Linked DNA regions of Homo sapiens: regions 1 and 2 are each reported to be linked to region 3. Evidence: microRNA targets listed by miRTarBase, many of them from high-throughput screens and not tested one by one. Region 3 holds a microRNA gene; each other region holds the end of a gene's coding sequence. Distances are between the middles of the regions.

Evidence for each region. Region 3 holds the annotated microRNA hsa-miR-203a-3p (GUGAAAUGUUUAGGACCACUAG, at 1,567-1,588, opposite strand). A microRNA usually pairs through its seed, bases 2 to 8, with sites in the 3' UTR of a target mRNA and lowers its output. Matches are read on the target gene's strand: a 7mer-m8 pairs with bases 2 to 8, a 7mer-A1 pairs with bases 2 to 7 and ends in A, and an 8mer does both.
Region 1: the mRNA of GDAP1 is a reported target of hsa-miR-203a-3p. Seed matches in the 3' UTR shown: 7mer-m8 at 1,998-2,004 and 7mer-m8 at 1,236-1,242.
Region 2: miRTarBase lists DNAAF2 as a target of hsa-miR-203a-3p. The part of its 3' UTR that is shown has no 7-base or 8-base seed match.

Annotation. Positions count from the first base shown.
Region 1 is chr8:74,363,975-74,366,974 of GRCh38, reverse strand. GDAP1 (ganglioside induced differentiation associated protein 1) reads right to left here. Exons shown (of 6, transcript NM_018972.4): 6 at 99-2,990. The coding sequence ends at 2,608. Among named protein-coding and RNA genes, the nearest start is that of GDAP1, 15 kb to the right of the region's middle.
Region 2 is chr14:49,622,809-49,625,808 of GRCh38, reverse strand. DNAAF2 (dynein axonemal assembly factor 2) reads left to right here. Exons shown (of 3, transcript NM_018139.3): 3 at 1-635. The coding sequence ends at 267. It overlaps MGAT2 (alpha-1,6-mannosyl-glycoprotein 2-beta-N-acetylglucosaminyltransferase), which reads right to left. Exons shown (of 1, transcript NM_002408.4): 1 at 2,328-3,000. Among named protein-coding and RNA genes, the nearest start is that of MGAT2, 3.5 kb to the right of the region's middle.
Region 3 is chr14:104,114,714-104,119,056 of GRCh38, reverse strand. MIR203A (microRNA 203a) reads right to left here and starts at 1,652; the gene lies at 1,543-1,652. ASPG (asparaginase) reads right to left here. Exons shown (of 16, transcript NM_001080464.3): 16 at 3,475-4,343. MIR203B (microRNA 203b) reads left to right here and starts at 1,554; the gene lies at 1,554-1,639.

The sequences.
Region 1 (3,000 bases), not on the chromosome of region 3:
AACCTCTGCTTATTTTACCCTTTTAACTACCACATGATGCTTTGATTTTAAATGAAAAAAATATATCTGTTTTCCAAAAAAGATTACAAAGTGAGTACTTTGTTTTAGGGTTCATATTTATTTTCCAATTACTTTTATTGATCTTACAGAATAGTGTCTTGGTCTCTCTACTGCATTCAACAACACCAAAAATCTACAACGCTGGTGTCAACAGCAATAATTACTAAAAATTGAGCAAGCAATTTATGACTATCCGCAATTATGGAAAATGGATTCAAAAGGCATCTGCTGCAATAACAATAGTATTTATGTGTGTTAAGACACAAAAAGCCAACATAACTTTAGTACCTCAGGCATTTTTCTAATTGTGATATTTATACAAATTTTGGAAATTGATGAGTACACTGACCAGTCACCGATAATCATGAAAAAGAAAATACACATAAGTGCCTATTTAGCTAATACTGTGTTTAACTCTAGCTTGACATTGTGTGATACTGTAATCCCTTTCAAAGCACTGGAAATCACTCACATTTGCCTCAAGCTTTTTTTTAAAACAGAAGAATAATCTGATGAAGATGCCCTTATTTCAGAAACTGAGGTCATTACTATCTTTGCTTGAAACATTTTAGAAGAGTTGCTGAACAAAAAGAACACTCAATCTTAGTCTACTGGATAAACAGCGACATCTAGTGGTCATTGTATCCCTAAACAAACACCTTAAAAGCACAAACTCAAGTATCCATGAAATATATGAAATTGCCACTATCTTTAACGTATTTCCAAAGAAACTGTACAAGGAAATTATAAACACATTCTAGAAAGATTCCCTATGATTCAGGAATAATATAAATTGAAGGAAAAGTTAACCATGGACTTCTAATTTTTATTCTTAACAACTTTTTCATAGGTAAATATCCTTCAGAGGTTTTTATAAAAATCCAATTCTTATTTCTTCACGACTCAGTTCTTGTTTCTAACAGAGTGACATAAAGAACTCAAACACTATGAACTAATGAATAATAACTTCTATGGCTCTAATGAATACATGGATTGGTATGTCCCAGCAACAGATTCAGACACTCCATATGACAACACACTCATGTGCAAATTTTAAATGTTATAAAAGCTGCTACTCAATTATTGTTTGACTGAGTTTACTCTGGAGGTTTTATTAATTTTTTTGTAAATCGGGAACATATAGTTCATCAAGGTTTTCTAATACAACTAGGTCATGAAATGGAATTACAGCATCAAAATAGAATTAAAAAATCATTTTGCCATCAAAAAGTCATTGTTTCCTAGGTATGACTTTCCTATTAATGATAAAGTTAGTACATTCTTTGGCTACTGTTGTTCACTGGGACCTCGGCACATCATCTCTATGCCTGCTACCCACCAGACACCAGAAATGGCTTCTAAGGCCTTCATGGCCAGCTCCAGGGAAACTGTCTTCCTGTCACCATGAAAGACTTTTTCTGAGCACAAACCATTTGTTGCAGTTCCAAGGTTATTCATGGGACACACCGAGACTGTCCCTTCCACATGAACTGAGGTATCCCCCCCAAATCCCTTAAACATACATCAGTGAATACAGGTATGCATCACTATCTACCCATTTAATTCATCTTCCCTAGATTAACTGCCAAGTGCTAAGACTAGACCTTTCTAACAAGTCTTTGTTGATGATCATAAACAGATGAAAGATCTGGACAACAATTTTTGTGTTTACAGACCAGCCTCCCCAAACGAAGAATGAACATATTTGGTGCTCCCAGATCATCAAAATACCCACTACCCAGCCAATACCTAGACATGCTAGTGATTAGCTGGGACATTCACCTAAATGCCACTTATGTGTATGAAGAGGGCTACAGATGCCACCCTTTCTACCTCCCACTGACTGGACATGACCATCCAGAGGAATGGTATCTCACAGGCACCATCTAAAACAGTAAGGAACCATTACCACTTGGTAATTCAAATTGCGGACCATCTGAAATGGTAAGGAATCATCTTAATATCACTTAAGACTTTTACAGAAATGCTAGGCAGATGTGTTCCAATGAGCATCAAATTTCTAGTATATAAGCACTTAATCTTACTAAAGCAATGTGTGTGATTCATAAGCATTTAAAATTAACACTGAGGTCAAAGTATACATATAAAGCCTGGGGTTCTCTCCAGCCCACTATCCCCAGTGATTCCCTAGTCCTCTCCTAAGAGTTCTCAATTACAGAAGTGTATGTGTGGGCAGTAGCCACAAGTAACTAAATGTGAGGTTTACCAATGAGACAGGCAGCCATGAACGTTGGAGGCACCCGAAGCTTACTTTCTATTGCTCTACCCTATACAGACTTCATTCTCTCATTTTTCCTTCTCTTATCTCTTTGCCTTCCTATTTCTGCCTGGAGCTGGCAGTTGTAGAATAAAGCAATTTTGTGTCCTATTGCTACCTGAACCCCTGTGTTGTGTAACAAAGATGACTTCTGAATTTTAGGAAAAAATACTGCTAACTACTCAATAAGACAGACTCAGAGAGCCACGGGCAATCACAGGGTCTAGCTAAATGCTTGGATGAGCTGCCACGACAAGATCCCAACAAACCTAGAAATAATTTGGTCTGGGTCTAAATGCTAATATCATGCTGCCAAGCCTCTTTCTGAAAAGCATAAAAGCAAAATATCCCACTCCTGCAAGCAAACCAACCACAAGGGTCGTGCCAAGAACTTTTGGGGCCCTTTTCTTGGCCACCCGGAATGCTGTTGGCAGCACTGCAGAGATTAATATATTGTTGACATGTCCTAAAACCTTGTTAAATGTTTTTCTCTTCAAGACACGCTCGTAATAGGTTTCCAAGTTTGGTCGCTTTCCGTTTCCCCAGTTTCTCCTTGCAAACCCCAGGAACTTCAGTCGATGCAATGTGACAGCGAGTGAGACGTCTGCCAGGGTGAAGGATTCACCGCAGAGCCAAGGTTGCTGGCCCTCTTCTAATTAGAG
Region 2 (3,000 bases), 54 Mb from region 3:
ATGCAATCTGAATTTATAAAAGAAAAAAGTGCTACTTGTTCAAATGAGGAAAAAGATAACTTAAACGAGTCAGTAATAACTGAAGAGAAAGAAACAGATGGAGATCACCTATCTTCATTACTGAACAAAACTACGGTTCACAATATACCTGGATTCGACAGCATAAAAGAAACCAATATGCAGGATGGTAGTGTGCAGGTCATTAAAGATCATGTGACCAATTGTGCATTCAGTTTTCAGAATTCTTTGCTATATGATTTGGATTAATTCTATATAATTTTGGACTTTTAAATATTAAGGTTAAAAAATACCTGTATCTAAAATTGATTCTGTTAACTGTTGTCTTAAAACTAAAGGTATTAAAGTATAAAATTAAAATTTGCAATTTTTTTTAAAAAATTGCAATTTTGATTCTCATGGGGGAAATTGGAGATAATTTTTTTTTTTTTGCCTCTGGAGTTTAAAGTTTCCTTATGGAGATAAGTTTTGTGATTCCTGTAATAGATGTGTATGTTTTCTATTTGAGAGTTAAAACATTTGAGAGTTAAAACATTTAGTTTTAATACAACCTATGTATATATACTTCTGTGTTAAATTTTGCTTTGTCATTAATAAAATTTAAAAATATTCACTAATTGTGTTTGTCACACAAAGTAATTCTCAAGAATGCATTTAACTGGAATTATAAGTACATGTGTGGGGGGTAGAATTTCAAAACTGTTTCTCAGTCTCACTAAGTAGGACATATTTAAGCTTGAAATAGAGCTTAGAGGGGAAAGAACTTTACTAACCAATATTAATCTAAACAATTACGATACAAATTCACCAGATAAAATGTAGTACTTTTCATCAGCTCTATATTTTGTCACACAAACTATATATATTTTTGTTACATAAAGTATATATAATAGATTTAGTTATTTAGTAATGATTTTCAAAATTCAATTTTGAAGTATTTCTTAGAAGTTATTGAAATATTAAAACATCTTGTGGTTTTATAGAAATTTAAGAGTAAAACTGGAATTTTTAAAATCTGGCAATTTGCTCTGATAGGAAAATTGCCTTCATTACATTATTACACAGAAAAACAAAAAAAAGCCAGTGTTTCCTAATCACTTTCTTTTTTTTTAAGAGATGGGTCTTGCTATGTTGTCCAGACTGGATTCAAACTCTTAGGCTCAAGTGATCCTCTCATCTCAGCCTCCTGCATAATCAATTTCCTTTATAACACCTAAAATGTGAGGCAAAGAGAAGATCCTAACAGGTTTTTTTCTTACAAAAAATTTTAGGGCAGCCAAAGAAAATGAAAGGAAGGAAATACAGAAAGGGAAATATTTGTTGATTTAATCACTAACCCCAAAGCCAGGAGCTGATCTATTTGTTTCAAAAACAGCTACTACTTCACACTCTGGCCTTCTTAGCTCAGTCCTGGAAATAACCTAATTTTTTAGTTCTTTGAACTAGTGATGTCAGGTCAGAGTACCAGAAATAGGTACAAAGCCTCCTGATTCACCCTTATTTATAACCCCCAGGCAAAATCTTGCACCAGACTGGGCCGTGGGTAAGTCTAAAGGTAGCTCGTAAAGCAAGAGAACTATTTGCCTCACCTTAGATAAGCATATGTGCTCTTAAACTACTATGAATCTTAAATTGATGCAATAATTTTGAGACTGCCATTTAATAGTTACAAGTTTAAGTAACTTTTTTTTTTTTTCTTTAGATGGAGCCTTGCTCTGTTGCTCAGGCTGGCGTGCAGTGGCACGCTCTAGGCTCACTGCAACCTCTGCCTCGAGACTCAAAGGATCCTCCCACCTCAGCCTCTCAAGTAGCTGGGACTACAGATGCACCACTACACCCGGCTAATTTTTTGTATTTTTAGTAGAGATGGGTTTTCGCCATGTTGCCCAGGCTGGTCTCAAACTCTTGAGTTCAAGCAATCTGCCTGCCTCAACCTCCCAGAGTGCTGGGATTACAGACATGAGCCACCACACCCAGCCCGTAATATCTTTACACAGAAATTAGTCTTTTATGAGAAATTCTCGGTTGAATGCAATTACAAATTAAGGGAAACTTCTATAAACGTCTACATTAAATATGGAGCAAAATTTAAGCCTGTTTCCTATAATTTTCTGTATCTGTCCTTTTAAAACGTATGATTTAAGTTAAAGCTGGCACTAGAAAGTATTTCACTTTGGCATGACTGAACTTTGTATCATTTCTGGCTTTCAAAAACAATTTAGGCTGTATTTCCCTTACACAGCAACTTTTTATCATTCATTTTCAATGCCTGGGTAATTTGAAAGCCAAACAGTTTCTTGCACAGGGAATGCATTGTCATAAGCTGGGTTTTATTTCAAACTCAATTATACAATGTAGCAATAGTAAATATTAAAATGTAATGCTAACTCAAAACTTGTAGAATGCCTTCACTGAATTTTGGTATAAAGAGTAAACAAAACTTATTCTGCAAAAGGATTAGGAACCTTTTTATGCAAAAATGAGTATTTTATTTTGTCAGCACTAAAAGAAAAAAAAAAACAAAACCACTGTATTTCTACATTGAGGTGAAAACAATGTTTAAACTTTCTTATCAATCAAATACATTCCAAAAGAAAGTGTGTTCTATGAAGGTTCCAAAACACACTCAAAACACAATAGTACAGGAATCTAATACTGAAAATGACTGTTCTGACAGGGTGTTTAACAAACATAACTTTTAAATTATTAAACCAGTGAAGCAATCCCTTCCTAATAAGTGTGTCAAGAGAGTGAAACTGGGTTTGTTCCATTAATACCCTAACAATTTCATCGTAATACTTTTTACTGCTATGACAGTTTTAAATAAATTTTGCTGTACTTAAAATAGGTTTTGAAAGTGGAAAAGTGTACAAAGTTTCAGATAAAAAGATTAATAAATGCAATTTAAATAAAATTTCCCCTCTTCTCTCATATCAACAATAATCAATTTTAGCAGATAACAGATTGAGCTTTAAAACCCTA
Region 3 (4,343 bases):
TTAGAAGGAAAAGGCTGGCTTGCTTTCAAGGGAGAAACCACGCTGAGGCCTGGGGGAAAAGGACAAGCACCCCAGGGACACAGCGATGCTTTGGAACATGTTTATTGTCATCAGTCTAAATTGTACAGACGCACACCGGACAGAATGCCTCCAAGCCGCAGAACAGGGACACAGCCGCCATCTCCCACCTGAGCCTCAGCCCCTCTCACGGGGCTGCTGAGGGCTGAGGGCCCATGCAGAGGGCACGGGGGAACGTGCTTGTAAAATGAAATGGCTACAGGGGGCTGCGGTGGTCAGCAGGCAGCAGCTGGGGAAGACACTCCAACCCCTCCGATGCCACAGACCCACTGGGCGCTCCCACGGCCCCAAGCTCTGAAGCCAGATCCTGAGAGGTGGCCACAATGGCATTTGCTGAGCAACAGAGGAGGCACTGGCCAGTGGTGGATGCTCTCCCGGGAACTCCACTCCCCCCACCTGGGTGGCCAGGGGACCTTGCTGTCCTGCTGCTGGCCCTCTTCTGGAACAGCCCTCCACAGTCACCTCCTGTCTCCTCACATCAACCCCCTATGTGTGCAGGTCGGGCTCAGAGAGGGCAGGTGACTGGCCCAAGGCCACCCTAGCAGGCCTCAAACCCAGGCCTGTCTGACCCATCTCCCAGGACTCCCCGCAGCTCTCTAAACACTGGGTGAGGAGGTGGGGACTGGAGGGGGACCCTCCACCCCAGAGGACACAGCAGGCCAGGCAGCACCAGGCAGAAGACCCCGGCCCCTGGCTGGAGGTGGGGACAGATTCGACCCTTTGCTGAGTCCCTCCCAGGGCCGCCCGGGGCTTCACACGCAGATTGACGCGCACACCTCTCCTGTGGGCGCTAGCTACCACGAGGTTCCAGGGAGGCTCCGGCGAAGGCACCTGTCATCATGGGCGCCGCTTCTCCTCTACCTGGGTGTAGTCTGCAAACTTCCTCCCCACCCCCAGTTCCTGTGCCTCGAGGTCCTTCACGAGTTTAGCGCGCACTCGTAGGAGCCGCGCAGCGCTCCCTAAGGCCTCAGTGAGTGGAGACGCTCCGGGGAGCCGGCAGCGGGAACCATCGGCCGCCCAGCAGGGTGCGGCTGCCGGCAGCCTGATGGGCAGCTCCCAGGAAGCCCAGGGCAAGGAGCGCTCCTCAACCCTACGGGCCCACCGCCAGTTCCTCGCTGGGAATTCCACGGAGTTTCGAGGTGCGGGCCCTCGGGGTGCAAGAGGGCGGCGGCGGCGTCTCCAGGCCGGCAGCGCGCCAGGAGCGTGGGCAACCCAGCGCGCCCCCACCCAGCGGTTCCCACAGCACAGCCCGGCCACGCCCGGCCACCTCCCAGCAGCACTTGGCTCTCCGGCCGAGGGTCTTCCCTGGCAGCAGGTGGAGCCAGCCAGGCCCTGGGGACTGCGGGGCGCGGCGCATGGGGCGGCCGACCTGGAGCGCGGAGCCGGTCCGTGGGCTCCCCTGGATTGGTCGCCGGCGCACCCCTGACTGTGACTCTGACTCCAGGCCGCGCGTGGGACGCTCCGTCGCTGTCGCCGCGCCCGCCGGGTCTAGTGGTCCTAAACATTTCACAATTGCGCTACAGAACTGTTGAACTGTTAAGAACCACTGGACCCAGCGCGCGAGTCCCCAACACCGTCGGTTCGCCGAGCTGCGGAGAGAGGAGCCCCCGACGCCCTTGGGACCGCCCGCGTCGCCTGCGGATCCCGGGGACCGGCCCCTGCGCCCAGATCCCCGCTGGTCGCGCACCCCCTGCCCTGCTGCAGCCACCCGGCCCCGACGCCGTACCGGACGCCTTAGACGCCCTCGCCTGGCGCTGGGGGATCCCAGCCGCCAAGCCCAGCCCCGCCGCGTCCTCGCTGGCCCCGGCGTCCCCTCGTCCCGCGGGCCCCGCGTGGCAGGGCGGCTGAGCTCCGAGCGGCGGTGGCCAGCGCGGCGGCGCCTTTTATGCGGCGCAGCCGCCCTTCCCGGCGCCGGAATGTGCCCGCGCCGCGCTGGCCCGACCGGTTTTTCCGGGCGGGGCGGCTCCCGGGCCCATAGGTCCCGCGACTGATCCTCCACGGCCCGGGGACCTGCTCCGCGCGCCCGCGCGGGGGTGGCCCTGACTCAGCGGCCGCCCCGCCCCATCCGGCGCCCCAGCCTCCAGCGCCTGGCCTGGGCGCACCTGGCCTCCCGGGTTCTGGGTCCCCGCCGGGCCACGCCCGAACCGTCTCGTCTGGGCCGGGGGTGCTCGGGCGCACGGAGGGCCCGGGGCTCCACCTTGGCCGGGTCGAGGCCCAGGGTGGCCGGAACAGGTGAGGACCAGCGCCCGACAGGAGCCCAGGGCCGCGCTAGCTCTCCGGTGGGTGTGGGGGCTGGGCTGGACACACCCACCCCAGCCCCTCTCACTTCAAAGGGAACTTCGTGGGAGGGGGAAGGGGAGGGGTAAAGAGAAAGTGAAACTGGAGGGAGGGAGGTTTCTGCTTCTCAGACCCTGAACCCCCACCCCGCAGCCCACAGGGGTAGCCCCGTACCTGCCTCCTCATTTCCCACGCGGGGGGAGGGACGCCCTACCCCCTCACGCAGCAAGGGCCTGAGCCTCGCTCCCCCCACTCACAGCCCAGCCCCGAACGTCCTGGCGCAGCTGGCCCTGCCGGTCCTACCCACTTAGTCACCTGGAGGTGTCCAGGCCTGACCAGTGGCGCCTCCCAGGGACTCTGCTTCAGCAGAACATGGCAGCTGAGGGGAGGGCTCAGGCTCTAGGAAATACCCTAGAGCCCCCTTCAGCACTTGCCCCAAGTCTGGAGCCATTAGTGTGTCTGTATGGGGTTGGGCAGCAGGGTGGTGACCATTCATTCCAGTGCAGGGCGGTGACACGCCATCCCACCACCCGCCCAGCCAGCCAGGAGCCAAGTGCTCAGGAGCCAAGGTGAGCCCCAGACCAGAACACAGCCACCAGATCTGAGGGACCCCCCAGACATTTCCACATGGGCCGCGTGTGGCTCAACCACCGCAGCCACCCTGGAAAGGGAATCAGAAAGGTTTTGTTATTTTCATTTTGCAGTTGGGGAAACTGAGGCTCAGGGAGGGACAGTGACTTCTGGGGATTGCACAGCTCTTGGTGGTAGAGAAGGGATGACAGGCCTTGCCATCGCTGCATCTGTGGGTCTCAGTGCCTGGGTGTGGAGTCCGAGGGGCTGCGGCATGGGGGTGGGGATGGAAGTGGGCATAGGGGAGCTTGAGATCAAGAACAGGAGCTTGGGAGCTCCTCCCCCAACACAACTGCATGGGCAAGAAGAACCCACCTCTCTTCTTTTCTTTTTTTTTTTCTTTTTTTTTGAGACCTAGTCTTGCTGTGTTGCCCAGGCTGGAGTGCAGTGGTGCGATCTTGGCTCGCTGCAACCTCCATCTTCCCAGTTCAAGCGATTCTCCCACCTCAGCCTCCCAAGTAGCTGGGACCACAGACACAAACCACCACACCTGGCTAATGTTTTTATTTATTTTTTAAGAGACAGAGTTTCGCCATGTTGGCTGTTCTCAAACTCCTAGGCTCAAGCTATCCACCCGCCTCGGCCTCCCAAAGTGCTGGGATTGCAGGTGTGAGCCACCAAGCCTGGCCACCACTCCTTAATTCTAAGTTCTGGTCTAGCCCAGTCCTGGGCAGACTCTTCCCGACGCACAGCCACTTGGATGGGCTCCCCTCGCCCAGGTGGCTCCCGTGTCCAGCATCCAAGGGAACTGACGAGAGAGGACGGGGAGAAGGTGACAAGTACAAGCACCTGCAGTTCCCACCAGCAGCAGGAAATATTGAGGTGTGACCAGAAGGGGAACTTCCTAGCATACACGAGAAATCTGGTTACCTCCAGCTGGGGAAGGGCGGTCCTGGAGGGCCCTCAGCTGAGGAGTCTGATTTTAGGATAGAAAATGCTGGTGAAAAAGACAGTAGTCGTGATGGAGAGGAGATGTTCCCCAGAGATAGCCCTGGGATCCAGGTGATTCGAGATGGGCTATAGGAACCAAGGCCTCCCCCAGCGTGAAATTACCAGGTGTGAGCGGCGCCACCCCACTGTGGGGAGGCGGGTCCCACGGGCACTGGGCACCTGGCTGTGCCTCATTCCTGAGTCTCCCACAGCCTCACACCACAGCAAGAGACAAGGCGGCCCTGATTCACAGCCCAGCTCTGCCCTGTGCCAACGCAGAGCCCTGGGCGCAGGACGGGGCCACTCTGTGCCTTAGCTTCCTCAGCCATGAAGTAGGATAGACGGGGACCCGGTGCCCTCCTACAGGCACAGTGGGGACGAAACACACCAACGCGGCGCAGGACACGAACGCTCCAAGCCTGTCTGTC